Linked DNA regions of Homo sapiens: region 2 is reported to be linked to region 1. The links are microRNA targets in miRTarBase. Many come from high-throughput screens and were not tested one by one. Region 1 holds a microRNA gene; the other region holds the end of a gene's coding sequence.
Evidence for each region. Region 1 holds the annotated microRNA hsa-miR-6885-5p (AGGGGGGCACUGCGCAAGCAAAGCC, at 2,014-2,038, shown strand). A microRNA usually pairs through its seed, bases 2 to 8, with sites in the 3' UTR of a target mRNA and lowers its output. Matches are read on the target gene's strand: a 7mer-m8 pairs with bases 2 to 8, a 7mer-A1 pairs with bases 2 to 7 and ends in A, and an 8mer does both.

Region 1 (3,000 bases):
GGAGGCTGAGGCAGGAAGCTTGCTTAAGGCCAGGAGTTTGAGACCAGCCTGGGCAATACAATAGCAAGACCCCAACTCTACAAAAAAATTAAAAAGTTAGTTGGGGCTGATAGCGTGGGTCTGTAGTCCTACATAGGAGGCTGAGGTAGGAGGATCGCTTGAGCCCAGGGGTTCAAGGCTGCAGTGAGCTATGATTGTACGACTGCACTCCAGCCTGGATAACAGAGCAAGACCCTGCCTCAAAAAAAAAAAAAAAAAAAAAAAAAAAAAAACGGAAATGGCAAAGGCCCAGGCCTAGCTCCTGGGTGTCCCTGTAAGTTAGGTTTGGTAGGCCCACCAGAGGCCTCTCCTTAAAGGAGAACATTTAGAAGCTGTGCCCACTGTTGGACATTTTTGGCCATGGTTTATCTGGGCAAGGGAGGGGACTGGGCTGGGGGCTTTCCCAGAGCCCCTGCCATCAGAGGCTCTAGAAAGGACTTTGGGAGCCATTAAAGCATCTTCAATTGGGAAGTTGTAGTGTGTGTGATCTGGCTGCTATGGGGAGACAAACTGTGGGTTTGAGGGCAAATAAACGGAGACCAAGGTAGAAGCAACTGGACTGGTCTAGGTGAGTCCTGGCAGGGCACTGGAGGCAGTGGAGGTTATGAGATGTGGCTGATTCTAGAGTGTTTTGGAAATGGTATATATGGACCTTAAATCAAGAGCTTAAGGGTAATTCGGATCACATTAGCCATGTAGGTCACGATAAATTGTTAATTTGTAGAGATTTTGGTGCCTTAATGTCAGCAAGTGTTGCACAATGAGTTTCTTTTTATTTATTTTATTTTATTTTTTTGTGATGGAGTCTCTTGTCATCCAGGCTGGAGTGCAGTGGCGCGACCTGGGCTCACTGCAACCTCCACCTCCCAGGTTCAAGCCATTCTCCTGCCTCAGCCTCCCAAGTAGCTGGGATTACAGGCGCCCACCACCACGCCTAGCTAATTTTTGTATTTTTAGTAGAGACGAAGTTTCGCCATGTTGGTCAGGCTGGTCTTGAACTCCTGACCTCAAGTGATCCACCCGCCTCAGCCTTCCACCATGCCCAGCCTTTTTATTTTTAGGAAATAGATATAGGATCTCACTATGTTGCCCAGGCTGGTCTTTTTTTTTTTTTTTTTTTTTTTTGGGGACTGAGTCTTGCTTTGTCGCCCAGACTGGAGTGCAGCGCCAGGATCTCGGCTCACTGCAAGCTCCGCCTCCCGGGTTCACGCCATTCTCCTGCCTCAGCCTCCCAAGTAGCTGGGATTATAGGCGCCTGCCATCATGCCCGGCTTATTTTTTGTATTTTTAGTAGAGACGGGGTTTCACCGTGTTAGCCAGGATGGTCTCAATCTCCTGACCTCGTGATCCACCTGCCTTGGCCTCCCGAAGTGCTGGGATTACAGGCGTGAGCCACCGCGCCTGGCCTTTTTTTTCTTAAGACAGAGTGTCACTCTATCACCCAGGCTGGAGTGCAGTGGCATGATCTCGGCTCACTGCAACCTCCGCCTCCCAGGTTCAAGCCATTCTGATGCCAGGCTGGTCTTAAACTCCTGAGCTCAAGTGATCCTTCTGCCTTGGCCTCCCAAAGTTCTGGGATTACAGGTGTGAGCCACAGCACAATGAGTTTCGATATGCATGCATTCTGGAGAGATGTGTGGAAATTCTAGGTACTTAGACATTTTTTGAAAAGAATCCTGGAACCAGATGCCTGCTGTAGATAATAGGGAAGTCTAATTAATTACTTCTACATTCCTCAGATAAGGAATTTTGCCTCCGATGGCCTGCTTGATGGTCACCAGGTGGTCTTTTTCTCTTTAATTTTAATTTGGAAATAATTTCAAGCTTTTAAGTTGCAAAAATAGAGCGCAAGGCTCGCCCAAATTCCCTTTACCCAGATTTGTCAAAGGCTACCGTTCTCCTCCCTTGTTGCCAAGTGGTAAGTTGGTTTTGAGAATCTAGAGCTTGGCCTAGGGCAAGGAAGGGCGTTCCTGGAGGGGGGCACTGCGCAAGCAAAGCCAGGGACCCTGAGAGGCTTTGCTTCCTGCTCCCCTAGGCTCGGCTGGAGCGGGACTTGAGCAACAAGAAAATCTACCAAGAGGAGGAGATGCCCGAATCGGGCGCGGGCAGTGAGTTCAACCGCAAGCTTCGGGAGGAGGCTCGGAGGAAGAAGTACGGCATCGTCCTCAAGGAGTTCCGGCCCGAGGACCAGCCCTGGCTGCTCCGGGTCAACGGCAAATCAGGCAGGAAGTAAGTGGTGGGGCGGTGGCGGTGCCGGCTTAGTGACCAGTCCACATCCCCAGGCCTCAACTTACATACTTTGTGGGGTACCCTCTCTGAACCTCAGATTCCCACTGCTGCAGTGGAAGTGCTGGCACTTCCATCCCTGTAGGATTTTATTATTTATTTATTTATTTATTTATTTATGTTATCTTATTTTACTTACTTGTATTTTTTTGAGACAGAGTCTTGCTCTGTCGCCCAGGCTGGAGTGCAGTAGCACGATCTTGGCTCACTGCAACCCACACCTCCCAGGTTCAAGTTATTCTCCTGCCTGAGCCTCCTGAGTAGCTGGGATTACAGGTGCCTGCCACCACCACGCCCAGCTAATTTTTGTATTTTTAGTAGAGACAGGGTTTCACCATATTGGTCAGGCTGGTCTCGAACTTGGCGATCCTCCCGCCTCGGCCTCCCGTAGTGCTGGGATTACAGGCGTGAGCCACCGTGCCCAGCCTACTTATTTATTTTGAGACAGGGTCTCACTCCGTTGCCCAGGCTGGAGTGCAGTGGTGCGATCGTAGCTCACTGCAGGCTCCAACTCCTGGGCTCGAGATCTTCCCACCTCAGCATCCTGAGTAGCTGGGACTATAGGCACGCCCCACCATGCCTGGCTAATTTTTGTATTTTTGGTAGAGATGGGGTCTTGCTGCGTTGCTCAAGCTGGTCTTGAACTCCTGGGGTCAAGTGATCCTCCTACCTTGG
Region 2 (3,000 bases), not on the chromosome of region 1:
GTGTGTGAGTGTGTGTGCTGGGCAGCAGGCTGCTGAGTGGTAGTGATGCTGTTAGGCTGGGGTGGGGAACCAGTGGCTGGAATGGGCGGTAATGTCTTTGTCCTCTACTTGCAGATCCACTCCTTATACCGCCGCACAGGTGCCAGCTTTCAGAAGGCCCAGCAAGAATTTGCTGCTGGTGTCTTCTCCAACCCTGCGGTGCGAACCGCAGCTGCCAATGCAGCCGCTGGGGCTGCTGAAAATGCCTTCCGGGCCCCGTGACCCCTGACTGGGATGCCCTGGCCCTGCTACTTGAGGGAGCTGACTTAGCTCCCGTCCCTAAGGTCTCTGGGACTTGGAGAGACATCACTAACTGATGGCTCCTCCGTAGTGCTCCCAATCCTATGGCCATGACTGCTGAACCTGACAGGCGTGTGGGGAGTTCACTGTGACCTAGTCCCCCCATCAGGCCACACTGCTGCCACCTCTCACACGCCCCAACCCAGCTTCCCTCTGCTGTGCCACGGCTGTTGCTTCGGTTATTTAAATAAAAAGAAAGTGGAACTGGAACTGACATCCCCGTTTCCTGAATCTTCATTGGGAATTAGGCCTTATGAAAGAGAAAGGAGAGTGTGGAGTGAGGTGGGAAGGTCGGACCCGGCTTTAGTGTAAACTGGGAGATATGAGGGGCGGGGCGGTGGAGCCCGAGTGGCTGGCGCAGGAAGGAGGTGGGAAGTCCACGGAAACGCGAAACCCGGAGACGCCAGGGAGCCCTGCTCCCCACCCCTCTCCATTAATGACGGGGAAGAGCCACCGCCTCTGCCGGGAACGCCAAGGAATACGCGGGCCTGGAGCCTGAAAAGCTGGATGGGGCTCAAGTGGAGGCCCAAAGGATCACTAGCAGCCTAGCCAGGGTCCAGAGCGAGGCAGGGACTGGAGGAGCGCTTATCCGACTGCCTCGCCCTGCCGCGGGATCCCCCAACCCCGACAGGGTCTCAGTCCCGAACTACAACTCCCGGGGTGCACCGCGCCGGCCCTCGCCGCCATGCCCCTCCTTCCCGCACCATCCCCATTCCCATCCCCCTTCTCTAGTCCCCGACCTGCGGCAGCCGGAGCTCGGGGAGCGGAGCGTGGTGGGGAGGGGAGCGGGACAGGCGACACAGGAGACAGCGGCGCCGCGGCCTCTCCCCACCAGGCGGCCCCGGATCCTACTGGACGCCCTGAGGGCACACCGACCGCGCCTCTAGAGTCACCCCACGCCGACCCCTCCCCTCTTCTCTAGACTTATTTCCATCCTTCCCGCTTTTACCCTCCCCACCCCTCCCTGGGCTCCAGGCCGCCGCCCCCTCCTCACTCCTGGACCGGCCCTTCTCGGTGCCCCTCTTCCCTAGGGAGATGCGATGAGCCGGTGCCCCCGCGTCCTCATCGTCGCCCCGGGCACGGTGCCCGTCCAGTGCCCGTGGTGGGGAGGGAGCACTCCGCGGTCCCTCCGTGACGCCCCTCGCTTGGCCCCCCCCACAGCTGGCGTCCCTCGGCCATGCCCCAGGGGACCCAGCCAGGGGGTGGGCTCTAGAGCGAGTGGGGTGGAGAGGAGAAAGGACGGGGCCTTGGGCGCCTCTGAGATGCTCCCAAGTGCCAGGGAGGGCCGAGCGAGGCGCAGGCAACCGGGCAGCAGGCATGATGCCCTCGCCTAGTGACTCCAGCCGCTCGCTGACCAGCCGGCCCAGCACCAGGGGCCTTACCCACCTCCGCCTCCACCGACCCTGGCTGCAGGCCCTGCTTACGCTGGGGCTGGTCCAAGTGCTCCTGGGCATCCTGGTGGTCACCTTCAGCATGGTGGCCTCTTCCGTCACCACCACCGAGAGCATCAAGAGGTCCTGCCCGTCTTGGGCTGGGTTCTCGGTGAGTTGGGTGCACAGTTGTTGGGTGGGGGAGGCTCCTCGGGCCCCACCCTCCACACCAGCTGCAAGTCCACATGCTTGCCTCTCCTCCCTCTCCTGGTCCTCTGCCTCCTTACAGGGCTGGGTGCATCCTGTGGTGAGGGGCTCACTCAGGAGCCTCCCCTGCCAGGCTGAGCCTGTGCCCACTCTGTCCCCAGCTGGCGTTCTCCGGGGTGGTTGGCATTGTGTCCTGGAAGCGGCCATTCACTCTAGTGGTAGGTGCCAGGGTCCAGTGCCCACTGGGAGGCAGGTGCCCAGCACGCAAGGGGAAGCCCATTTATGTCCTCAAGAAGGGAACTGGCTCCCCAGTTGGTGCCAGCCGGGTGGGCACGAAGTGTCTGTGAAGGAGGGGGACTCTGTCCGTGGCAGAGGAGTACTCATGAGGGTCCCAGCCCTGAGTCTGCACCCTGTTTTCCCCAGATCTCCTTCTTCTCCTTGCTTTCGGTGCTCTGTGTCATGCTTAGCATGGCTGGCTCTGTTCTCTCCTGTAAGAATGCTCAACTGGCCCGAGACTTCCAACAGTGCTCTCTGGTGAGATTTGAGGAGGGAGAGCTGGAAAGAACTGGCTGGGGGAGGTGTGCAGGACACCTCAGTTTGTCCTGACTCAGGCTGCCTCACCCTCCCTGCTCCACTCAGGAAGGAAAGGTCTGTGTGTGCTGTCCCTCTGTTCCCCTCCTCCGGCCCTGTCCAGAGTCGGGGCAGGAACTGAAAGTTGCCCCTAACTCCACCTGTGATGAAGCCCGAGGGGCCCTCAAGGTGAGCTTGCACCCTGCAAACATCCTCCTGGTTCTCACTCTTGCCTCCCCTGCTGGGGTACTCACAGGCCCATAATGTGTGGAACTTAGCCGTCTCCTGACTCCTCTCCTCCTTTCCCTTCCCCAGAACCTGCTCTTCAGCGTCTGTGGGCTCACCATTTGTGCCGCTATAATCTGTACACTCTCTGCTATTGTCTGCTGCATCCAAATCTTCTCCCTGGACCTCGTGCATACGGTGAGAAGGGAGCAGGGGCCAGGGCACGCAGGTATGGTGGGGGCAGGGGTGTGTGTGCTGAGACTTGCCTGAGGGAACAATGGCTACAGAT

Region 2: miRTarBase lists SCAMP3 as a target of hsa-miR-6885-5p. Seed matches in the 3' UTR shown: 7mer-A1 at 438-444.

Annotation. Positions count from the first base shown.
Region 1 is chr19:6,388,712-6,391,711 of GRCh38, reverse strand. MIR6885 (microRNA 6885) reads left to right here and starts at 2,009; the gene lies at 2,009-2,074. GTF2F1 (general transcription factor IIF subunit 1) reads left to right here. Exons shown (of 13, transcript NM_002096.3): 4 at 2,075-2,268.
Region 2 is chr1:155,253,534-155,256,533 of GRCh38, reverse strand. SCAMP3 (secretory carrier membrane protein 3) reads left to right here. Exons shown (of 9, transcript NM_005698.4): 9 at 115-553. The coding sequence ends at 261. ENTREP3 (endosomal transmembrane epsin interactor 3) reads left to right here and starts at 1,051. Exons shown (of 12, transcript NM_006589.3): 1 at 1,051-1,881; 2 at 2,078-2,134; 3 at 2,340-2,450; 4 at 2,556-2,675; 5 at 2,802-2,909. The coding sequence starts at 1,657.